Homo sapiens: one gene and its partners. The protein of the gene in region 1 interacts with the protein of each later gene in a biochemical or structural test. Each region holds a gene or a part of one and is shown in the gene's direction. Other genes may lie near its edges.

The links.
Region 2: the proteins of TJP3 (region 1) and SLCO1A2 interact in a test that uses a peptide from one of them, tested with the Homo sapiens proteins (one large-scale study listed by IntAct).
Region 3: the proteins of TJP3 (region 1) and KCNV1 interact in a test that uses a peptide from one of them, tested with the Homo sapiens proteins (one large-scale study listed by IntAct).
Region 4: the proteins of TJP3 (region 1) and SLC2A7 interact in a test that uses a peptide from one of them, tested with the Homo sapiens proteins (one large-scale study listed by IntAct).
Region 5: the proteins of TJP3 (region 1) and TMEM151B interact in a test that uses a peptide from one of them, tested with the Homo sapiens proteins (one large-scale study listed by IntAct).
Region 6: the proteins of TJP3 (region 1) and LRP4 interact in a test that uses a peptide from one of them, tested with the Homo sapiens proteins (one large-scale study listed by IntAct).
Region 7: the proteins of TJP3 (region 1) and UQCRC2 interact in a test that uses a peptide from one of them, tested with the Homo sapiens proteins (one large-scale study listed by IntAct).

The regions. Positions count from the first base shown.
Region 1 is NC_000019.10:3,732,384-3,735,883, forward strand, and holds part of TJP3 (tight junction protein ZO-3), read left to right. Parts: intron 1-1,369; coding exon 1,370-1,529; intron 1,530-1,943; coding exon 1,944-2,052; intron 2,053-3,182; coding exon 3,183-3,256; intron 3,257-3,485; coding exon 3,486-3,500. UniProt on the Homo sapiens protein: TJP1, TJP2, and TJP3 are closely related scaffolding proteins that link tight junction (TJ) transmembrane proteins such as claudins, junctional adhesion molecules, and occludin to the actin cytoskeleton.
Region 2 is NC_000012.12:21,328,418-21,331,917, reverse strand, and holds part of SLCO1A2 (solute carrier organic anion transporter family member 1A2), read left to right. Parts: intron 1-3,500. UniProt on the Homo sapiens protein: Na(+)-independent transporter that mediates the cellular uptake of a broad range of organic anions such as the endogenous bile salts cholate and deoxycholate, either in their unconjugated or conjugated forms (taurocholate and glycocholate), at the plasmam membrane.
Region 3 is NC_000008.11:109,963,136-109,965,771, reverse strand, and holds the end of KCNV1 (potassium voltage-gated channel subfamily V member 1), read left to right. Parts: 3' UTR 1-2,136; downstream 2,137-2,636. UniProt on the Homo sapiens protein: Potassium channel subunit that does not form functional channels by itself. Modulates KCNB1 and KCNB2 channel activity by shifting the threshold for inactivation to more negative values and by slowing the rate of inactivation.
Region 4 is NC_000001.11:9,023,624-9,027,775, reverse strand, and holds the start of SLC2A7 (solute carrier family 2, facilitated glucose transporter member 7), read left to right. Parts: upstream 1-1,352; 5' UTR 1,353-1,430; coding exon 1,431-1,481; intron 1,482-2,701; coding exon 2,702-2,800; intron 2,801-4,152. UniProt on the Homo sapiens protein: Probable sugar transporter. Even if its physiological substrate is subject to discussion, it is able to transport glucose and fructose. Does not transport galactose, 2-deoxy-d-glucose and xylose.
Region 5 is NC_000006.12:44,276,697-44,279,944, forward strand, and holds the end of TMEM151B (transmembrane protein 151B), read left to right. Parts: 3' UTR 1-2,748; downstream 2,749-3,248.
Region 6 is NC_000011.10:46,894,551-46,898,050, reverse strand, and holds part of LRP4 (low-density lipoprotein receptor-related protein 4 precursor), read left to right. Parts: intron 1-1,056; coding exon 1,057-1,182; intron 1,183-1,715; coding exon 1,716-1,841; intron 1,842-2,032; coding exon 2,033-2,167; intron 2,168-2,759; coding exon 2,760-2,885; intron 2,886-3,231; coding exon 3,232-3,462; intron 3,463-3,500. UniProt on the Homo sapiens protein: Mediates SOST-dependent inhibition of bone formation. Functions as a specific facilitator of SOST-mediated inhibition of Wnt signaling.
Region 7 is NC_000016.10:21,959,861-21,963,360, forward strand, and holds part of UQCRC2 (cytochrome b-c1 complex subunit 2, mitochondrial precursor), read left to right. Parts: intron 1-2,599; coding exon 2,600-2,656; intron 2,657-2,900; coding exon 2,901-3,025; intron 3,026-3,500. UniProt on the Homo sapiens protein: Component of the ubiquinol-cytochrome c oxidoreductase, a multisubunit transmembrane complex that is part of the mitochondrial electron transport chain which drives oxidative phosphorylation.

The DNA.
Region 1 (3,500 bases):
TGCCCTGCCCTAAAGGATGGTATCTTTCTGGATTCTTCCCCTGAAAGTCTGTTTCTAGTGACTCCTAGTGTTTGATTTCCAAATTGCTTTCAGCTGATTATTTCCAGTGTCTTCAAAAAGTTATCTGTTTCTTTTTTTTTTTTTCAGACAGAGTCTCGCTCTGTCACCCAGGCTGGAGTGCAGTGGCGCAATCTCGGCTCACTGCAACCTCCGCCTCCCAGGTTCAGGTGATTCTCCTGCCTTAGCCTCCCGAGTAGCTGGGATTACAGGTGCCCGCCACCACACCCAGCTAATGTTTGTATTTTTAGAAAAGACGGGTTTCTCCATGTTGGCCAGGCTGGTCTCGAACTCCTGACCTCAGGTGATCCCCCCCGCTCGGCCTCCCAACGTGCTGGGATTACAGGCGTGCACCACCACACCTTGCTAATTTTTTGTATTTTTAGTAGAGACGGGGTTTCTCCATCTTGGTCAGGCTGGTCTCGAACTCCCGACCTCAGGTGATCCATCCGCCTCGGCCTCCCAAAGTGCTGGGATTACAGGCATGAGCCACCACACCCGGCCGACATTAAGTTCTTTCTAGGAATTGTGTGTTTCTAATCTACCTCTAGATGACTGTTTTCTTTTCTCTTTTCTTTTCTCTTCTCTTTTTTCTTTTCTTTTCTTTCTTTTTGATATGGAGTGTCGCTCTGTCACCCAGGCTGGAGTGCAGTGGCGGGATCTTGGCTCACTGCAACCTCCACCTCCCGGGTTCAAGTGATTCTCCTGTCTCAGTCTCCTGAGTAGCTGGGACCACAGGCGCCCACCACCACGCCCTGCTAATTTTTGTATTTTTAGTAGAGACAGGGTTTCACCATGATGGCCAGGCTGGTCTTGAACTCCTGACCTCAACTGATCTGTCTGCCTCTGCCTCCCAAAGTGCTGGCATTACAGGCGTGAGCCACCGCGCCCCACTCTAGATATCTGTTTCTAGTTATCTCCCAGAAGATTGTGTGTTTCTAGTATCTTTTAAGTATCTGATACTCCCTCTTCTCCAGTTAGAGTTGTTTATAATGTCACCCTCACATCTGTTCCTAGTATCCCCTGAGACATTTCCACTTTTGGTAAGAAAGGAGAGTCAACCTGTTTCTCATTTTCCCCAGTGTCTCCCACCCCTCTTAGAACATTTTCTGTTTCTAGAATTCGGTGCTCAGTTCTTGGTGTGGTCTCCACTCACAGCAGGAATCCAATTCAACACTTTCCTTAGGGAGTGGCTGTTTTTAGCAACCTCTGGGGGAATTGTCTGTTTCAAGTTCCCCCACACCAGGCTGTTTCTACTGTCTCCCATCTCTCATTAACTCACTTCCGCTCTTTCATTCCTGGTCCCTTTCAGATCAACGGGGTGTCTAGCCAGAACCTGTCACTGAACGACACCCGGCGACTGATTGAGAAGTCAGAAGGGAAGCTAAGCCTGCTGGTGCTGAGAGATCGTGGGCAGTTCCTGGTGAACATTCCGCCTGCTGTCAGTGACAGCGACAGCTCGCCATTGGAGGGTGAGGACCTAGAGGTTAGGACCTGGGAGGGGGTTGAATGGATGGCAGGGAAGGTGGGAAGCCCCAGGCAGGGCCAAGGAATCAATGAGCCTGGTCCCTAGAGGCTCAGAGAGTGACAGGAACTTGCTGAAGGCCACACAGCAAGTCAAGAGTTCAGGGGGGCGATCTCGGCTCACTGGGTTCAAGCGATTCTCTGCCTCCTGGGTTCGAGCGATTCTCGTGCCTTGGCCTCCTGAGTAGCTGGGATTATAGGCGTGAGCCACCGTGCCCAGCTCCAGAGCCGAATCTTCTAACTGAGCTTCTGACTTTGGTCTAGGGCCCTTTGTTTAGAGGGGTGTTGATATACCCCTCTGTAAAATGGGTCCAGTCCAGAAGGCGTGACCATGGCTGATGAGATGTCCTCTCCCCCTGCAGACATCTCGGACCTCGCCTCGGAGCTATCGCAGGCACCACCATCCCACATCCCACCACCACCCCGGCATGCTCAGCGGAGCCCCGAGGCCAGCCAGACCGACTCTCCCGTGTAAGTATCACCCATCGGCCAGAATGGTGATAGGGAGGGAGAGGGAGGTGGGAGGGAGAGGGGAACGCGGGCGTAGCTTTCCAACTGGGGGTAACCTTGAGGACGCAGTCCTGTATTTCTAGCATGTGCCTCAAAATACCTCCAGCCTCTACCCATTACCCAGTTCCAAAGCCGTGTCCGCATTTGTAGGTGTTGGTTACAGCAGCACCCCACTTCTTAGTATCAAACTCTGCCTTAGGCCAGGTGCGGTGGCTCACGCCTGTAATCTCAGCACTTTGGGAGGCCGAGGAGGGTGGATCATCTGAGGTTAGGAGTTCGAGAACAGCCTGGCCAACGTGGTGAAACCCTGTCTCTACTAAGATACCAAAATTAGCCCGGCGTGGTGCCGGGTGCCTGTAAGCTCAGCTACTTGGGAGGCTGAGGCAGGAGAATCACTTGAACCCAGGAAATGGAGGTTGCAGTGAGCCGAGATCGTGTCATTACACTGCAGCCTAGGCAACCAGAGCAAAACTCTGTCTTAAAAAAAAAAATTTCTTTTTCCTCTATTTATTTATTTGTTTTGAGACTGAGTCATGTGAGACTGGCTAATTTTCATATTTTTGGTAGAGATGGGGTCTGTATTGCCCAGCTATGTTGCCCAGGCTGGTCTTGAACTCCTGGGCTCAAGCATTTGGCCTGCCTCAGCCTCCCAAAGTGCTGGTATTACAGGCGTGAGCCACCACGCCCAGCCCAGATAAATTAAAATTATTTTTATTTTGTTTATTTATTTATTTATTTTTTTGGAGACAAGGTCTCACTCTGTCGCCCAGGCTGGAGTGCAGTGGCATGATCTTGGCTCACTGCAACCTCTGCCTCCCGGGTTCAAGCAATTCTCCTGCCTTAGCCTCCTGAGTAGCTGGGATTACAGGCGCCCACCATCATGCCCGGCTAATTTTTGTATTTTTGGAGAGACGGGGTTTAACCTCGTTGGCCAGGCTGGTCTTGAAATCCTGACCTCAGGTGATCTGCCCACCTCGACCTCCCAAAATGCTAGGATTACAGGCATGAACCACCGTGCCCGGCCTAAAATTCTTTTTAAAATGGCCCCTTGAAATCCATCCCTGCCTCACTCCCAATCTGTTCCCCACCAGGGAGAGTCCCCGGCTTCGGCGGGAAAGTTCAGTAGATTCCAGAACCATCTCGGAACCAGATGAGCAACGGTCAGGTGGGTGGTGACTCTGAGCACCCCTGTCCCTGACATTTCTGATCCCTGACAGCAAGGCTGTGCCAGGCAGAGCTGGGGGAGGTTGGCCTGAGCCTAAGTGGTGAGACATGGTTTCCTGAGAAGGACTCGAGGTGGGTGACAGTCCTTCCAGGATGAGGACATAAAGCAAAGGTTTGGAGGCTGGACTGAGCCAGTGTGCTTGGGAAAGAGACTGGCTTTTCCCTTTCAGAGTTGCCCAGGGAAA
Region 2 (3,500 bases), on another chromosome or scaffold:
CCTGGGAGCCCCCACCCACTCCAGAGAATCCCCAATCCCCTAAATTTGGTTAAGATCTAAAATTTATTTTTCTCTACAACTCCTATTTTTTAGTTTTACTTGTGTCCAACAAAGAAGGCAAGTTTTCCTGCTTCCATGACAATGGAGCGTGGGCAACTCCTTTCTGGAGTTTCAGCTAATTTCCAACAGGGAAGGCAAGTTTGAGCTTTTTTTTTCCTGCCTGTAAGATGGTAAACAGCAGTCTTGAGCCAGGGTCTCATTCCTAGATAAGTAGCTGAGTTGGGTTTTTTTTTTTATCTCAGCGATTCTCCTTAATGACTAAAAATTAGAATTGACAGCCGGCTAGTCTTAATTTCTCCTTAGCATTAGAGTGCTCAGTAATCATATTGTTGGGGTTTTTTGTTGTTCTGGTGTTTCTCCCATCAGATTTGACCAACTGTACCCAACTTGGCCAAATTCAAATGAGAATTCCAAATTATGAGCAGCCAGACCTCTGAAGCTGCTAAAATTCCTCATAACTGAAAAAAAGAAAACAAACAAATTATGCGCTTGGTTTCTGTTGCAGCTTCCTGTCTTAAAAACACAATTGTTCTTTCATTTTCTTTTCTTCCACACTATTTCTCCTTCCCCCTTCACTGTCTGGTACCAAAAAAAATCTAGAGAAGCCATCAAATGACTTGAACCCCTTAAAACACTCAGAACAAAGGCATCACTCACCCTTTCTTTCTCTGTGGAGTTTCAAGAGTCATGGGCAGATTCTTCTTAAGGTCTAAAGTGTTCTTATTCAAAGGTAAATTATTTTTGTCTAATTCAGAGGTTATTTAAGGATTATATATAAAATGAGGTAAAAAGGACCAGGAAATAAGAGATGTAAAGAAAGTTATAAAGAGGTATTTTTGGTAAGAAAGCTTAAAAGAAAAGTAATTTTATATGAGAAAGAATCTTGCATGATGAATTTTTGTCCTAAGATAAAATGACTCGTTCAAGAAAGAGAAATATTTATGTCAAACCAGAAAGTCCAAGCATGTTGTAAATGGTCTGTGTAAGTTGTAATAAGGTTAGTAAAACAGGAATTTGTTAAAATGTTATGTGATTCAGTTGGCTACAATTAAAGGAAATTATAATAGTTTTTCTAAAAATTGAACTTTGATATTAAAAGTACACTCATGCAACACTAAAGAACTGGTTAGAACAAGATTTATTAAAAATGTTGAGTTACTCTTAATGCAAGGACTTTAAAATTTTTGAATTCTATAATCTTTTTCTTTTTAAAATTATTTAGATTGATATCTCAGAACCTGTGCCCTACTGCTTCAGTTTTTTTCTCTTTTGAGAAGGCCTGGAATGGTAACTCTCTCCTTCAACTTTGTTTGGCTCCTGTAACTTTTTACTTTTATTTTATTTTTTTTGAGGCAGGGCCTCACTCTGTCACCCAGGCTGGAGTGCAGTGGCACAATCTCAGTTCACTGCACCCTCAACCTCCCAGGCTCAAGAAATCCTCCCCTCAGCCTTCTGAGTAGCTGGAACTACAAGTGTGCACCACAAAGCCAAGCTTTTTTATTTATTTATTTATTTATTTTGTATTATTTATAGAGATGGAGTGTCACATGTTGCCCAGGCTGGTCTCGAACACCTAGACTAAAATGATCTGTCTGCCTTAGTCTCCCAAAGTGCTAGGATTACAGGCATGAGCCATGGTGTCTGGCCTTTTTAAGTTAATAGTTGAAACTAAGAAACAGAATTTTTGAAAATAGGCAAATGAAAAATATTTTGGATCTGCTTTTGTCTGTATGTCTGTTATAGCTATATGTTTATATGTGTCATGTAGAAGTAATATTTCACTACCAAATTATATTAAAGACCTCTAATCACTTGGCTAAAAGAAAAATAAGTGCTTTTCAGACTGAAGGAAGCTACCAAAGATGCCTTTTAATTCATATGACCTTAGTAGTTTTGGGTAAGACTAATCTGGTAAATTTAATCTCAAAATTACCTCCAGTAGTTTAACATCTTAAAGTCATGTTATGTTAAATTAAATAACTCCTATTTTTTTCAATGGGAATCTGGGTTACTAAGAGTTAAAATAGTAGGAGAGTAAATAGTGTTTTTGGTAAAATTTATAAAAATACAATGATGTAGCTTTTGCTAAAGAATTTTTTTTTCTAAGAGTTATTTTAAGTAAAGATAAAAATATTATATAGATAAAACTAAATGGATAAAGAGAGAAATTAAAAGATGAGTGAGGAGAAACCTTGACTCCAGGGTGGCCATGTGGTTACCTATGGTAGGGAGATGCAGCTGAGCTACATTCAATTACAAAAGATAAAATTCATTAGAATTTAGAGATGGATTATGCTCCCGAGGAGTTAGCTCTCTAAATGCATAAGGAGATGCAAACTAATAAAAAAAAAAAAAGCAAAAATATTCAATCCCTTGGTTATTGTTATCTGTAATTGCTAAATGAATGTACAAGAATGCTGGGTTGATCCTTAAGGCTGGATCAGGCCCAGAGGTGGGTCTGTCCCAGCTCAAGCCACTAGACTCCAAGCTACCCACAGAAAGAAAAATTAAACCAGAGCAACAAAAGTTACCTCTGAGAGCTGTGGTTACCAAGAAGATAGTCAATATGTGGGAAGGGCAAAACCAAGTAACTATTAAAACCAGAGGGTATAATGCAAAGTAATTGTTCCATTTTGTAGATCAATATAATCAGCTTCTTGAGAAACCTTAACTACTTTAAGGAAAGAATCCTTTATTTTGAAGGCTACAAAATGAAAGAGCTTGTTTGGGTTGATGCAGGATTCACAAATCACTATTAAATTGCTGATGAGTATATGTGATCCAAATGTATACGAGGTTATTCATAAGAGAACAACCTGCCTAACTGACTGGATAATTGCTACTGTAAGGTCTGTTTACTCTGGAAATGGGACTTCCCAACCATCCCTATAAAATGCCAAGTGGAGCACCCCAGATAATGTAGTTGATATGCTTCATATGCAAGCCATGTGAAACTGTCTTTATAACTGGGATATTCTCCCATTGAATATGACTAGTATCCAGTTCAGTGCCCTGTAACCTCTCCCCTCCCCTTTGCTCACTGTCCTGGAGTGGCACTGGCCTCTGAAGTAATTCTTTTTTGGTCTTGGGACTAGTTCAGGGGAAACTGGGTGGGGGAAATCCCTCCTGCCCTAAGTGCAGTTGGACTGTACAGAATACTCCAAAGGCCAATGGTAGTTCAGCACAGAAAGAGGGAAGGCCTCCAAGTCAGAAAGAGCTCCAGAGACCTCATGGTATTGTAGGGCAGGGTGGTGGGCCAAGGTTAGGACACTGCATAAAACAGGCAATCCCACCACCTCTACCTGCTCACGCCAGGAGAATCCATAACTGCCTAGAGGCCTGAGACCCCTACAAGTAGTAAGGTGAATAGGCATCTATCCAGCCTAGCAGTAGGATTGATGTCTGTCCAGCCTGGAAGAGGGGCACTAGGTGACTCCCTC
Region 3 (2,636 bases), on another chromosome or scaffold:
AGAAGTTCAATATGCCTTAAGTAAAATATCAGCTTATTCTCAGAGGTGGAATGGTGCTTTTAAGAAAAGGCTGTGGTGACACCTTATAGTCATTATTAGATTAAAAATATATTATCTTTAGAGTAAATAGTAGTTGGAAATAAAAAAAATTAAAAACTATGTGTATACATATGTATATATGTTTTTATCATGGAGGATCCTAAACATCTTCTCTACAAATGTGCTGTTAGCTATATAAATGTTGTCAAGATGTAGGTCTTCAGAAAGAAGTTTTAAAATATCATTGCTTACTCAATTTTGCTGTTAAATAAAATATCATTTTATTTATTCAATGAATGTATATATAAGCAAACCAAATTTCATTTAGGTAAAAAAATCAAGGCAGGAACTCTGCCAATTTTATAACCCATTATTTTAAAACAGTAAACACTTTTTAAACATCTAAGAATTATTGTTATAAAACAATATTTAATTTTTTAAAATATAAAATAATTGAATTATTGTCTTTCTCTAAGCTATTTAGAGAACACTACTTTCTTTGTTTTGTTTTGGTTTGGTTTTTTGAGACGGAGTGTCCGTCTGTCGCCCAGGCTGGAGTGCCAGTGGCGCGATCTCGGCTCACTGCAAGCTCCACCTCTTGGGTTCACACCATTCTCCTGCGTCAACCTCGCGAGTAGCTGGGACTAGAGGCGCCCGCCACCACGCCTGGCTAATTTTTTGTATTTTTAGCAGAGACGGGGTTTCACCGTGTTAGCCACTTTCTTTGTTAATTTAACTGTTATTTTAAGTTCAGGGATACATGTGCGGGTTTGTTATACAGGTAATCTTGTGTCATGAGAGTTTTTTTGCACGGATTATTTCATCACCCAGGTATTAAACCTAGCACCAGTTATTTTTCCTGATTCTCTCCCTCCTCCTACCCAGCACCCTCTGATAGGCCCCAATGTGTGTTGTTTCCCTCTATGTGTTCATGTGCTCTCATCATTTAGCTCCCACTTATAAGTGAGAACATGTGGTATTTGGTTTTCTCTTCCTGCATTAGTTTGCTAAGGATAATAGCCTCCAGCTCCATCCATGTCCCTGCAAATGACATGATCTCATTCTTTCATATGGCTGGATAGTACTTCATGGTGTATACATACATTTTCTTTATCCAGTCTACAGTTGATGGGCATTTAGGTTTATTCCATGTCTTTGCTACTGTGAATAATGCTGCATTGAACATACGTGTGCATGTATCTTTATAATAAAACAATTTATATTTCTTGGGTATATACCCATTAATGGGATTGCTGGATCCAGTGGTATTTCTGTTTTTAGGTCTTTGAGGAATTGCCACACTCTCACATGGCTGAACTAATTTACACTCCCAGTATCAGTGTATATGCGTTCCAATTGCTCCATAACTTCGCCAGCATCTGCTTTTTTTTTTTTGCTTTTTAATAATAGCCATTCTGACTAGTGTGAGATGGTATCTCATTATGGTTTTGATTTGCGTTTCTCTAATGATCAGTGATATTGAGGCTTTTTTTCATATCATTGTTGGCTGCATGTATGTTTTCTTTTGAAAAGTGTCTGTTCATATCCTTTGCCCACTTTTTAATGGGATTTTTTTTTCTTGTAAATTTGTTTAAGTTTCTTATAGATGCTGGAATATTAGACTTTTGTAGATGTATAGTTTGCAAATATTTTCCCCCAATCTGTAGGTTGTCTGTTCACTCTGTTGATAGGTTCCTTTGCTCTGACAAAGCTCTAGAGTTTAATTAGATCCCATTTGCCAATTTTTGCTTTCGTTGCAACCACCTTTTGTGTCTTCATCATGAAATCTTTGCCTGTTAGAAAACACTACTTTCAGACATTTAAATGCATATAGGCAATGCTTAAGTACCTAAAAAAGCAATTTTAAGAAATTACTGAGGTATCTCTATTAAGAGTGACATATTCATATTTTATTTTATGTATATATTATTTCTATAACATACAAGAAATTGTTGCATTTATCATTTTAATGCAAAGTAGTATCAAGTATAATGGATTAGATGCAAAAATAACTGAGGTAGGAATCTCAGTTCTGTGTTTTAATGTGGAATTCTTATGCTTATTAAAATATTTTGATTAGCTGTTGCAGAAAATATATATGCTGACCCAATTTATCTAAGCAAAACATTGTCATTGGATAAGCTTAATACTTTGAGAAATATTTTTATTGATACATTATGTTAACAAGAAAAGTCTCTTCTTTTGAAATATTAGCCATTAATAACTGTCTTATGAATCCTTCAGTTCAGATCCAACAAGATATTGGATAGCAGGCAAATGATGTGTTCTGATGATCTCCTTCATGATTTTTCTTTGCAAAGCATCACCACCCCAGAACTCTCTCCAAGCCATACTAATATAAGGAAGACAAATGTCACACAGGGAGAGCTTTACTCATCAACGGCAGTTGCCTACCTGGTACGTTTTTAGGGACGACAGGGAAACCTGGATACTCACCATCCTTATGTTCTCACTGTGCTTATATTACATTATATTATATTATATTATATTATATTATATTATATTATATTATAATCACTCCCTTGCTTGCCTTTTCAACTCTAGTGCCCCTCTCTTCCTTCCTGGTATTAAATTGG
Region 4 (4,152 bases), on another chromosome or scaffold:
TCAATTAGTTACTCCTAATTTATTCAATCATTCTCTACTTTAAAAAAAAAATGCTAGTAGAAATGATTCTGAAATAAGCACCTTTGTCCAATATTTTATTGACTTATTTAACACTATTTAGTGTAATTAGAAATAATAACTGTGTTTTTCTGAAAGTGTTTAATTTGTTCTTTCCCCCAAATGGACAATTAGTCCAAATGCACAAGAGGAGGCATATATGAAGAACCTAGGAACACACAGAAAGGAACAGCAAACACTGGGATCTACTTCCGGCTGGAGGGTGGGAGGAGGGAGAGGAGCAGCAAACAAACACTGGGAAGTGGGCTTAATACCTGGGTGATGAAATAATCTGTACAACAAACCCCCGTGGCACGAGTTTACCTATGTAACAAACCTTCACATATACCCTGAACCTAAAATAAAAGTTAAAAAAAAAAAAAAAGCCAGGTGCGGTGGCTCATGCCTGTAAGCCCAGCACTTTGGGAGGCCAAGGCAGGCGGATCACTAGAGGTCAGGAGTTCTAGACCAGCCTGGCCAACATGGTGAAACCTCATCTCTACTAAAAACACACAAAAAAAGGCTGGGTACGGTGGCTCACGCCTGTAATCCCAGCACTTTGGGAGGCCGAGGCGGGCAGATCATGAAGTCAGGAGATCCAGGCCATCCTGGCTAACACGGTGAAACCCCGTCTCTACTAAAAATACAAAAAAAAAATTAGCCAGGCATGGTGGCAGGCACCTGTGGTCCCAGCTACTCAGGAGGCTGAGACAGGAGAATGGCGTGAACCCGGGAGGCAGAGCTTGCAGTGAGCTGAGATTGCGCCACCGCACTCCAGCCTGGGCGACAAAGCGAGACTCCACCTCAAAAAAAAAAAAAAAAAAAAAAAAAAGCTGGGTGTGGCGGCACGTGCCTATAATCCCGGCTACTTGGGAAGCTAAGGCAGGAGAATAGCTTGAGCCCAGGAAGCCGAGGTTGCAGTGAGCTGAGATTGCGCCACTGCACTCCAGCCTGGGCAACAAAGGAAGACCCTGTCTCAAAAAAAAAAGAGGCATACATGGAAAAATGACACAGAAAAAGCATCCTAGATCCAGGTCACAGCCTCACTGGGTCTCTGAAAGTCCTCATTTCTGCGGACCAATGTCAGGCAATGTTTTTTCTCTCTCCTTGGTGCAACTAGGGAGCTTTCGGCTTGGGGCTTGGTGGGTGCAAAGACGAAATTCGTGCTGTGTATGATTTGTGCACTGGCAACGTGTGTCTTATCAACATTTCCAAGGAGAATTTGCTCCTGGGGAAAGTCAGCAGGGTCCAGAGAGCAAAAGGATCATAAAGCCAGGTAGGCCCAGGGGAGAAACAGCCGGTCTTTAGGTGGCTGGCGCAGAGCAGGTGTCACTTGGGAGGTAGAGCACACCTGTTCTCCCACCTGAACAAGGATGGAGAACAAAGAGGCGGGAACCCCTCCACCCATTCCATCCAGGGAGGGGGTAAGTGCCAAGACTAGGAACCTGTCACTGTCCCTCTCCCACCAGCTGTGCAGACCTGTGGAGGGAGGTGAAGGCCGTGGAATGCTTTTAGCAAGGAGCGGGTAGCGTGCTTCCTTTTTCTTCAGGATAACCAGGCCTGGGAGAGCCATGTGGAGAAGCAGCTATGCTCAAACCTCATGGCTCAGACATGGGCCAGGGTGGCTGAGCGAATGCTGGGAGAGCGGATGGTGCTGGAGATGCCTCTCTCCCTTCCACCCCTGCTCCCCTCCGCTTCCCCTACCCTTAAAGATCGAGGGGAGATGGCCTCTGAAGAATGCCCGAATCCTGCCCTTCTGTCTGGTTGTTCCTGGATGTGCAGAGCTACGGGCTGTGGGCAGCCAGGCAGCTAAGTGTGAGGGTTGGGGTGAGGACATGTGGAACAGGAGTGAGGGGTGGAGGGGGCAGTGGGGAGGGGGCATGCACCAGGGCCTTGGCTCTAGGACATGGTCAGAGACCCTGCCCACCTGCTCCTCAGACTTTGGCCCTCAGGCCAGTTCCCCTCCAAGCTGCCCTGGGTGTTGTGGCAACCATGGAAAGCCTGGCCCTGAGCACAGGCGACTGCCGGGATTTTCCTAAGGGCCTGTTCTAGAGGCAGAGGCAAGCAATGAGTCCCTCTGTCTGGGATGCTCTTCCCCCCGATGCTTACACAGCTGCTCCCTCTCATCCATTCTGGTCCCGGCTCAAAGGGCGCCTGCTCAGAGAGGCCTTCCCTGCCCTGCCCACCCTACTGAACACAGTCTCTCATTCCTCACAGGCTGCTACCCCACCCATCACCCTATTTTATTGTCCTCACAGCATTCTAGCTATTTGGAATTATCATCTTTGTCTTTCTTGGACGGGGTGGGCTCCCCTCACTAGAAAGTGAGCTTCTTAAAGGCAGTGCTTTGCTGGGCCTTTTTCCTAAAGCATCCCCTACTTCACACTTGGCCTCCAGGGCCTAGTACAGGGCCAGGCACGTAGCAGATGCTCAGATACATCCTCAAGGAGGGAATGAATGCGTGCAGAGACCTCAGCCCCCAAAAGCCCCAGCCCTGCGCCACCTCCTCCTCTTTTCCGGGGGCACGGCCTGGGATCCCCCATCCCCCACTTCCAGCCCAGGCTGGAGGGAGGTGGAGGCCCAGCCACTCCACTTCCCGAGGCCCAAGCCCACAGCGTCCCGACCTTGGACTTGTCTCCTACAGCGGCTCCAGCCGACGCTGTTGCTGGCGACACTGAGCGCGGCCTTTGGCTCAGCCTTCCAGTACGGCTACAACCTCTCTGTGGTCAACACGCCGCACAAGGTGGGCACAAGGTGGGCACAAGGTGGGCCGGGCAGCAGCTGACCGGGGTCGTGGGTGGAAGGTAGCCGCCATCTTCCTCCGTGGAGGCTGCCATCTTGCCTGTAGGAGGCACCATCTTGCCTTTGGGAGCAGCCAGCTTGCCCTAGTACCCTGGATGCTCACCCCTGGAGACCAGGGCGTGGCAGGAGGTGTTTCCCCCTGGAGTGTCGTCCTTTCCGGGCACATTGGGATGCTGGGGGACCTGTTCCATTTTCCAGCCCAGTCTTTTTGGGCCTCAGGTCCCACTGCTCTCACCTTGGGTAGGCCCCTTGTTGATTGGAAAGAGAATGGGGTCAAAGATTGAACTCTGTGGCATTTAGGGATTGGGGCAAAGGGGAAAAAAGGAAAAAGAGAAGGGGCCCTTGCAGGTGTGGAAGACCCTGAGGGCAGAATGTCCCCAAAACCTAGTAAAGGATGAGAGTCAAGGAGGGAGGGACAGCCTGTGCTGATGAGCTCAGATGAGGACTGAGAACTGACTACAGGCTTGACCTTGGTATACGTCTATGCTTACGCTTGTATACATATATTAGCATGTCTACAGACACTGTATTACATTTGTTTGTGTATTACGTATATATACATATATTAGTGTACTTACAATTATTACCATGGATGGAACCTCCGAGTCAAGCAATGTACCATCACTTAATCACATTTAATGCTAACACATTCTTTATAAGGTACATCTTGTTTCCATAACTGATGAGGAAATTAAGGTTTCTGGAGGTTCTGTAACTTGCCTGAAGTCACACAATTAGTAAAAATATTTCCTGGGCTGGGAGCGGTGGCTCACGCCTGCAATCCCAGCACTTTGGGAGGCTGAGGTGGGTGGATCACCTGATCACCTGAAATCAGGAGTTCAAGACCAGCCTGGCCAACATGGTGAAACCTCATCTCTACTAAAAATCCAAAAATTAGCCAGGCATGGTGGCGGGTATCTGTAATTCCAGCTACTCGGGAGGCTGAGACAGGAGAATCACTTGAACCCGGGAATCAGAGGTTGCAGTGAGCCAAGATCATGCCACTGCACTCCAGCCTGGGTGACAGAGTGAGACTTCATCTCAAAAAAAAAAAAAAAAAAAAAAAAAAAAAAAAAAAGAAGAAGAATATTTCCTATGGTGCCTCTGGCAGAGTAAGTCGTAAGTCTCTCAAAAGTAAAATTTTTTTTTTCTTTTCTTTTCTCTTCTTTTTTAATAGAGACAGGGTCTCCCTATGTTGGCCAGGTTGCTCTTGAACCCTTGGCCTCAAGCAATCCTCCCGCCTCGGCCTCCCAAAGTGCCAGGATTACAGGTGTGAGCCATTCCCAGCCAAAA
Region 5 (3,248 bases), on another chromosome or scaffold:
CCTGTACATAAAGAGACCGATGGGTGGGAGGGGGTCGGCTGCTCCCCGAGATCCCCCTGGCAGAGTCATTCTTCCAGCCCCAACCCTGAGTTCCTAAAGGGACACCTCCCTCCTGTCCAGCCCTTCAACAGATCTTCTGTTAGATGACAACCGTGCCGTGGGCCCCGCGTTGGGCCTTGTCTGAAGGGAGAGGCCCTGGCATGCGGATGGGAGATTTAGAGGCTGTGGAGAAGGGAACTTGGGGCTTTCCTTCCTTCGTGGCCTCACTCCCCTGGGGCCTCTCTCTATGGAGGGGGCAATGGTTTGGTGACCAGCAGGCTGGATTCCAACTAGCTAATGCATTCAGCAGGTCTGAGGCTGGGGCCAGGTGTCAGCCCTAGGCCTCCATCCAACACCGTGGAAATGTTGCTGCCCTCTTCTTGGCGCTGACCCCAAGATTGGGGTTTCCTTTCTGCCGCTCCCTCCACTGTTGTTTATCTAACTGGGCCCCCACTCCAGGTCCAGAGGGACTGTGCTCACTGCACAGACATCACTCACCTTCCGCTCCCCAGTCCTGCAGAGCTGTTGCCAGGGTGCAGTGGGGAGGGGAGTGAAATGTGGAGGACTGTGTACCTCAGTCCTCTCTCTAAACTCCTCAGCCTCCCAACAGGGGCCTCCTCACCTGGGTTCTGAGTGTATACCCCTTTTAGAGAGTGAGATGCCACCCGGGCAGCACTCGTTAAAGCTGGCCAGCACGAGTGACTAAGGGGAGAGAGCATGACATAGACCTGGGTGGCAACGGGGACCTCTGGAAGCAGGTGGGAGTAAGAGAGGAGAGGGCAGTGGAGGGTAGAGGAAAAGGACCTCCAGAGGTGGGGTGTCTGTGGGGGCGGCCTTTGCCTCCCTAAACCTGTGCGGAGGAGTGGAGTGTGCTTGTCGCTCAAACACATCTCTGGGGGACTGAGGACGTTGTCACAAGCCCCAACTGGAGAAATAATTCCAATGGCAGGGTCAGAGGCAAGCATTCTCTAAATCTTGCCCAACCCTTCCATCCTTCCCTATCCTATGAGCTGAAGCCCTGCTGTGTGTCGCAGGGTCTTCAAAGGGGCATCCTGCCACCACCCCAGGGCGCTGGCCCCACGTCCTGTTCCCCTAAAGCTCTGACACCGCCTTCTCTCCGTGTGCTCCCCCCACCACCTCCACCCTGATGTGCTTCAGTGTGCATGTCTGTGAACAGCCCTCCTGCCCTGCCAACTCCCCTGGCTAAAGTCTCCCCAGCAGATTTAGCACCCAGGGATTGAGCTCACATTTCAGGCTAGAGAGGATAACCCTTGGGCCACCCACATCTCTCACCCCTGATGCTTCTTACTTCGCCTGAGCCATCAGAACTCCTCCTTACCCTCCTTCAGCCCCTCTCATCTTCCTTCAGCCCAGCCAGGCCTGCACCACCAACTGTGTGGCCTCCACCTATGCAACATCGCCTCTGGCTCCCCTTCCCTTCTTCCTAGCGGGGAGTGCGAGGGGCCCAAATTGTGGGGATACCATGGCCCATGGCTTCTAAAGGGTTTAGCTTTACTTTCAGGTAGAGATGGCTGAGTGAGGAGGGAGAAGAGGCTAGAGAGAGGGAGGCTTGGGCAGGGGAAACAGCTGCCCACCAGGTTTTCCTGGACAGCAGTGCCCACCTGCCTACTAGCACTGAACCTGCCTGGACCCTGAGTCTGTGCTCCTTGGGGGCCTGGCGTTTGGAGCACCCTTCTTTCCTCTGAATGGACATCTGTGAGGTACAGGTGGTGAGCTGCAGCCTCAGGCTCCATTTCTTAGCCAGCTGGCACCTGGATGTCATGCTTTGTGTGGGGACAGCCTGGCCACCTCAGGGCTCCAAGGAAGGAGGAACGTGGCTCCTCCTCCCTCAGGCCTGTTCCTGAGACAGAGCCTGGTCTCACAAGAGGGGAAGGGGGACCTCTATTATTATTTTTGCCTGTATTGACCATTTCTGCCTAGGTCGTCTCAGACAGCCTCATCTCCCACACATGCACAGACTTAGAGAGAAACCAATTCTTTGGTCTATTTTCTTGGTAGCTTTACTGATTGCCAGGGAAAATGAAAACCAGAAAATTAATTAATCTCTAAAATTAAACTTTACACTGAATGTTCTTGTTTCTCTAATTAGAACTTCTGCTAGCAGCTGTGGCTATACACACACACACACACACACACACCCTCACACCTACACGTTTGCACTCCGGAACTGTCAGAGGGTGTCAGGCACAGACAGACTCTAGGTTGCCTAGACAGGCACACACATGCAGTCACTCCCAAGCCCCCTTTGGTGCTCTGCTCAGCGCCTGCTTAGCGGAAGGAGTCCCTGGAGAGCAGGCACTCCTGGACTGGGGTTGTAGCCCATGACCTGCCCTTTGGGGACACAGTTCTGGAGGCTCTGGGCCAATGAATCAGCCCAAGGAGGATGGGCAATGGCGCTCAGCCTGAATCAGTCAGCTAGGTCTCTTGTGGCCCTGGGGGCTGATGTGATTCCTGTAGGTGTGGCCCCAGGGTGGACAGCTACAGAGTGATGGGGGACTCATGTAGGGCACCTGGAAGGCTCCATGTGTCCTGGGGACAAGGGCTTGTGGGGTGGGCTGGGCCTGGCTGGGGAGAAGACAGGTCTCTGTCAATTGGGTGCATCACACTGTGGCCTTTTTGTCGTGGATTTAAGCGCAAAGATTGTACAAATCAAACTGGTGGATAATAAAGTCGTGGATGACTCACTGACTTCCTGTCCCAGTGTGGCACTTCTTTCCCTCCCTCCCAGGGAAGCTCTCTGGGGTGGGTGGCAGGGATTGTGTCATCCTTCCCTGGAAGTTGTCATCTACAGTTGCCTCCCCAGAGGAGTCCACTGGGTCTGAGCCCCTGGTGTCAGCTCATTGTCCCCTTCCCAGGTTGGGAGTTGGGGAACTAGGGGATGGCGTGGCCTGTAGAACTGGATCACTTAAAGCAGAGTCAAGCAACAGGGAAATGCATCTACAGGGATGAGGGTGGCAGAGAGAGCCAGGCATAGCCCTGCTGTAGCCAGAGGGTGTGTGTGTGTGTGTGTGTGTGTGTGTGTGTGTGTGTGTGTGTGTGTTTGAAGATCAAGGATCTGTTTGGTAGAGAAGAAAATGGTGGGGAGTCAGGGAGGCAGGCAGCCCCAACGGGAGAATCTGGCAGGCACAGTCCCTCAGACACCTCTCTGACTTCCCTGTTCCTGAAAGAAGTTGGTCATTTGTGGGTGT
Region 6 (3,500 bases), on another chromosome or scaffold:
CCCCCGCCCGGCCAGCCGCCCCGTCCGGGAGGGAGGTTGGGGGGTCAGCCCCCCGCCCGGCCAGCCGCCCCGTCCGGGAGGTGAGGGGCGCCTCTGCCCGGCCGCCCCTACTGGGAAGTGAGGAGCCCCTCTGCCAGGCCACCACCCCGTCTGGGAGGTGTACCCAACAGCTCATTGAGAACGGGCCATGATGACAATGGCGGTTTTGTGGAATAGAAAGGAGGGAAAGGTGGGGAAAAGATTGAGAAATCGGATGGTTGCCGTGTCTGTGTAGAAAGAAGTATACATGGGAGACTTTTCATTTTGTTCTGTACTAAGAAAAATTCTTCTGCCTTGGGATCCTGTTGATCTGTGACCTTACCCCCAACCCTGTGCTCTCTGAAACATGTGCTGTGTCCACTCAGGGTTAAATGGATTAAGGGCGGTGCAAGATGTGCTTTGTTAAACAGATGCTTGAAGGCCGCATGCTCGTTAAGAGTCATCACCACTCCCTAATCTCAAGTACCCAGGGACACAAACACTGCGGAAGGCCGCAGGGTCCTCTGCCTAGGAAAACCAGAGACCTTTGTTCACTTGTTTATCTGCTGACCTTCCCTCCACTATTGTCCTATGACCCTGCCAAATCCCCCTCTGCGAGAAACACCCAAGAATGATAATAAAAAAATTAAAAAATAAAAAAAAATAAAAATAAAAAAATAAAAAGAAAAAAAAAAAAAGACAAACAGGCCACTACCCATAAATCTTGAAGACACTGGGTAAGACCACCACCATGTACAGTTGTGTAGGTTGTGCACTGTGCAGAGGCAATATGTCCAAAGGGAAGCCAGTCACATAATAGATTTATATACTCATCATGGCAGTTTTCCAGCAGATGGCAGTAAAGTGTCTTGAGGAAAGGATACTTTTTTCTGATTCACACAAAGACACTATATAGACCAGCTGTGATCCCGGTGTCAAGAGTGGCATGGGTACTGATATAAGCTGCAGATTTGGGTGGCAGGGAGAATTTCAGGCTGAAATGGGGCCCACCTTTCATTAAGCCTTTGCTTTGCCCAGCCACCTCCATGTGTACGGCAGAACAGTTCCGCTGTCACTCAGGCCGCTGTGTCCGCCTGTCCTGGCGCTGTGATGGGGAGGACGACTGTGCAGACAACAGCGATGAAGAGAACTGTGAGAATACAGGTGGTGTCTCCCGGGGTGCCCCAGAACCCTTAGCCTATAGTTGGGGTGGAAGGGTGGAAAAGAGGGTGCTTTGGTATCTTTCCAGTTGGGTTGAGGTTTTACCAGTGTAAAATCCAGGTGCATCATTGACCTGCGGCCTTATGGCCTGGAGCACAGTATCAGAGCTGCGAGTTTCAATTGCCACTCCTATTCTAACTCACACACAGCCAGTGCCTTTAGCTCTGGTCTAGTGAGGAAGGACTACCCTCCATCTGGCAGCCCCCATGTGTGCTCCCCTGGCCACACCCAGTATTGAGCATGTGGTTGCACTTTTTCATTCTGTTCCATATTCCTCACCATCCCACTGTGGAGTCCTGGGGAGAAAGCAAATGCAGACATTCAGCCAGCCCTGTCTGAGCTGCTTCCTGCCCAGGACCCTCACCCTCCCACCTTGAGTCTCATCTGTCTCCAGCTTACCCTAGAAAATGACAGGCTCCCATCTCTTTGTTGGCCCAAGCCCTGCCTTGCTATGACCTGACCCTCCATCTCTCTAGGAAGCCCCCAATGTGCCTTGGACCAGTTCCTGTGTTGGAATGGGCGCTGCATTGGGCAGAGGAAGCTGTGCAACGGGGTCAACGACTGTGGTGACAACAGCGACGAAAGCCCACAGCAGAATTGCCGTGAGTGTCCCCAGTGGGCGGACCTGGCCCATGGTTTGTGGCCGAACCCCACCCATAGGGTTCAAAGGGAATCCTCCCTCAGGACTCTTGCAGCTTTGGGAGCTGTTCTTTGTGGTCCAGGTGGAATGCCAAGTTGGCTCTCTGGGGGAGGATTCTGGGCTCAACTCCCAACTCTGGCTTGGCTGGCACAGGGCCCCGGACGGGTGAGGAGAACTGCAATGTTAACAACGGTGGCTGTGCCCAGAAGTGCCAGATGGTGCGGGGGGCAGTGCAGTGTACCTGCCACACAGGCTACCGGCTCACAGAGGATGGGCACACGTGCCAAGGTGAGCTGGGGCCTGGTTTGCAGCAGAGTCGGGGTTCTGAGCAGGGGCAGCAGACAGGCAGCTGTGTTTCCTATGGGTCAGGCATTTGAACGGTGTGACCTCATTTCGTCCTCACAATAACCCTAGGAGGTGGGGATCATCCTTCCCATTTCACAGATGGGGAGACTGAAGCACAGAGAGGATAAGTAGCTTACCAAAGGCCACACAGCTGGCGAGTAGCAGAGTTGGGATTCCAGCCCAGGTCTGCATGACCTTAAAGCCCTTAACCATTTCTTCTTTTTTATTTTTTATTTTTATTTTTTTGAGATGGAGCCTCGCTCTGTCGCCCAGGCTGGAGTGCAGTGGTGCGATCTCGGCTCACTGCAGCCTCCGCCTCCTGGGTTCAAGCCATTCTCCTGCCTCAGCCTCTTGAGTAGCTGGGACTACAGGTGTGCGCCACCACGCCCGGCCGCCCTTAACCATTTCTTAGACAGCCTTCCCACTAGGCCTGGAAAGTAGATGGGGATGTGGGCAGAAAAGCAGCTCGGCAGCCTGGGAGCGGGAGTGGGAGGACGACAGAAGGGAGATCTCTTGACCTGCCTGGTGTTCCCAGATGTGAATGAATGTGCCGAGGAGGGGTATTGCAGCCAGGGCTGCACCAACAGCGAAGGGGCTTTCCAATGCTGGTGTGAAACAGGCTATGAACTACGGCCCGACCGGCGCAGCTGCAAGGCTCTGGGTAAGGGCTGTTGGCACTTGGCTGGGTGGGCAGAGGGCCGAGCATGGAGGAAGGCCAGGTACTCTGGTGCTCAGGGATTTGCAGAGAGGTAGAGAGATTTCTGTCACAGTAAAATGCAGCAACAGTTGCATTCTGAGCCCCAAGAAAAATGCTGCTGGGGTGGAGTGGGGTGGGGAGGGGTGGAGGAATATAGTTTAAAGGTTGCCACTCTTCTGGTACTGATGCTGACAGCTTGGGGCATGTCCTTGTGAGCAAGTGGCTCCATCGGTCAGCTGAAGACCTGCTGATGGGTACCAGGGGCGGCTCTGAAACCCAGTGGGTATCCCATGTTTATACTGTTTCCCAGGGCCAGAGCCTGTGCTGCTGTTCGCCAATCGCATCGACATCCGGCAGGTGCTGCCACACCGCTCTGAGTACACACTGCTGCTTAACAACCTGGAGAATGCCATTGCCCTTGATTTCCACCACCGCCGCGAGCTTGTCTTCTGGTCAGATGTCACCCTGGACCGGATCCTCCGTGCCAACCTCAACGGCAGCAACGTGGAGGAGGTTGTGTCTACTGGGCTGGAGAGCCCAGGTAGGGAACAAGGCCCCATGGAGAGGGGCAGAGCCATG
Region 7 (3,500 bases), on another chromosome or scaffold:
GCATTGTTGCAGTAATAATTTGAAAGGAATCTTTTTTCTGAGCAATGGGCTTAAAATATTCAGTCAACCATGCTATAAACAGATGTACTATCATCCAGGCTTTTTTGTTCATTTACAGAGCATAGGCAGAGTAGATTTAGCATAATTCCTAAGGGCTCTAGGATTTTGAGAATGGTAAATGACCTCATCCTAAAGTCACCAGCTGCATTAGTCCCCAACAAGAGTCAGCTTGTCGTTTGAAGCTTTGACGCCAGGCATTGACTTCTCTAGCTACGAATGTCCTGGACGGCATCTTCCAATGTAAGGCTGTTTTGTCAGCATTGAAAATCTGTGGTTTAGTGTAGCCACCTTCATCGATGATCTTATGTAGATCTTCTGGATAACGTGCTGCAGCTTCTATATTAGCATTTGCTGCTTCACTGTGTACTATTATATTAAGAAGATGGCTTCTTTCCTTAAAGCTCATGAACTAACCACGGCTAGCTTCAGACTTTTCTTCTGCATCTCACCTCTCTCAGCCTTCATATAATTGAAGAGAGTTAGGGCATTGCTCTGGATTAAGCTTTGACTTAAGGGAATACAGTTTGATCTAATCCAGACCAGTAAAACTCTGTATTATCAGCAATAAGTCTGTCTTGCTTTCATATCATTTATGTGTTCAGTGGAGTAGCACTATTAGTTTTCTTCAAGAACTGCACTGGTGCAAGAGGCCTAGCTTTTGACCTGTATCCGTTTTTAACATGCCTTCCTGACTTCCTTAGAAGCTTAATCCTTTCTAGCTTCTGATTTAAAGTGAGAGACATGAGACTCTTCCTTTCACTTGTATACTTAGGGGCCATTGTCGGGTTATTCATTAGCTTAATTTCAATATTGTTGTGTCTCAGGAGTAGGAATATCCAAAGAGAGGGAGAAAGACTTGGGGAGCAGCTGGTCAGTGGAACACTCAGGACAGAAACAGCATTTCTTTTTTTTTAATTAATTTATATTAAAGACAGGGTCTTGCTCTGTTTCCCAGGCTGGAGTGGAGTGGTGCAGACATACCTTATTGCAGCCTTGAACTCCTGGGCCCAAGCGATTCTTCTCCCTCCGCTTCCCAAGTAGCTAGGACTATAGGCACATGACTCCATGCCTGGCTAATTTTTTATTTTTTGTACAAATGGAGGTCTCACTATGTTGCCCAGACTGGTCTTGAACTCCTGGCCTCAGGTGATCCTCTCACCTCAGCCCAGCATGCTGGGATTGCAGATGTGAGCCACTGCACCCAGCCCAGATTTTTTATATATTGTGTTGTCAGTGGTAAAGATGATAGAGAATGTCTCATTCTGCTGATAGGAGTATAAATTGATACAACCACTTAGGAAAGAATCAAGGAATATCTGGTAATATTGAAAAACCCCACAGTTTTTAATCACATTCACAAAGGTATTCTTTATAAAGACTGGAAACGATCTAAGTGTCCATCTTTAGGGAAATGGGTAAAGTATGACAGAGTCATGATGAGACCACTATACAGCCATTACGGAATGAACTAGATCCATACGTCAACATAGCACAACTGAAGGGCAAAATAGAGTGTGAACAAGCAAGTTTCAAGATTTCTTTAAGGTATTTTAATTTTTTAAGCAGAAAAATACTATGTAGTGCTTATGATTGTGGTTTCCAGAGTGGGAGAGAGTGAGGGAATTGGTCTTGGAAGGGTACGAAAAGATCTTCAACTTTATTTGCCATTTTAAAAAATTGTGGTCAAATGTATATAACATAAAATTTATATATATATATATATATATATATATATATATATATATATATTTTAGACAGTCTCGCTGTGTCGCCCAGGCTGGAGTGCAGTGGCATGATCTTGGCTCACTGTAACCTCCGCCTCTTGGGTTCAAGCGATTCTCCTGCCTCAGCCTCCGTGGTAGCTGGGATTACAGGCGTGCGCCACCATGCTTGGCTAATTTTTGTATTTTCAGTAGAGACCATGGTTTCACCCTGTTGGCCAGGCTGGTCTCAAACTCCTGACCTCAAGTGATCCGCCCACCTCGGCCTCCCAAAGTGCTGGGATTACAGGTGTGAGCCACTGCGCCCGGCCCAAATTTATCATTTTCTTAAGTGTGCAGTTAAGTGGCATTCAGCAACCATCACCAACATTCAGCTCCGGAACTTTTCTATCTTCTCCCACCTGAAATTCTGTACCTGTTAAACAATGGCTGCTCATTCTCCCCTCCCCTCAGCCTTTGGCAACTGCCATTCTCTTTTCAGTCTCTACAAATTTGACTACTCCAGGTACCTCATAAGTAGAATCATACAATATTTGTCCCTTTGTGACTGGCTTATTATCCTTAGCATAATGTCCTCAGGGTTCATCTGTGTTGTAACATGTGACCAGATTTCACTCCTTTTAAGGTTGAATTATTTGCTGGTTTTTAAAAAAATTTTGAATTTTAGTTGGTTAATATGTGGAGTTTTGTTATATTATTGTTCGCACCTTTTATACTTCAGAAATTTTCTTTCCAAAGGAATTGGTTGATAGAAGATTATAAGGGAAAGCTTACTATCCTGATTCAGATGATTTACTCTAGTTTATTTTCCGATTCAGTGTGACCGCAACAAGGGAAAACATGGCTTATACTGTGGAATGCCTGCGGGGTGATGTGTAAGTACCTGTGTGTGTTTAGGACTTCTGCTTTGAAAGAAATACTAAGCTGCTCACTTCTGGTCTTTGTAATGCGTCATTATGACCTCTGACTTCCATTTTGGATTATTGTTCATAAACTGCTCAAAAACACTGCTTACCACAAGACCTAAAGTTTCACATTGAGAGCATTACAGCTATGTAGAATCTCAAATGTTGGCTTTACATTTTTGACTCATAATTCTTATCTCGATGTCTTCTGTAGTGATATTCTAATGGAGTTCCTGCTCAATGTCACCACAGCACCAGAATTTCGTCGTTGGGAAGTAGCTGACCTTCAGCCTCAGCTAAAGATTGACAAAGCTGTGGCCTTTCAGAATCCGCAGACTCGTAAGTACATTTCCAGATCACATTTGATTCTAAGATACTGGGTTTTTTAGAAGATCAATTTATAGAAGAAAAAAAATTGCTGTCAAAATTTTTATTTTTATTTTTATTTATTTATTGTTTTGAGACAGAGTCTCACTCTGTCACCCAGGCTGGAGTGCAGTGGCACGATCTTGGCTCACTGCAACCTCCAGCTCCCGGGTTCAAGCAATTCTCCTGCCTCAGCCTCCTGAGCAGCTGGAATTATAGGTGTGCACCACCACACCTGGCTAATTTTTTGTATTTTTAGTAGAAACAGGGTTTTGCCATGTTGGTCAGACTGGAGTTCAGTCTTGAATTCCTGGCCTCAAGTGATCCACCCACCTCAGCCTCCCAAAGTGCTGGTGTTACAGGTGTGAGCCACCATGCCTGGCCAAATGTTTTACTCCTTGAATTTGAAAATATCTTTTTCAAAAATTTGTTATTTAGATTTATTATT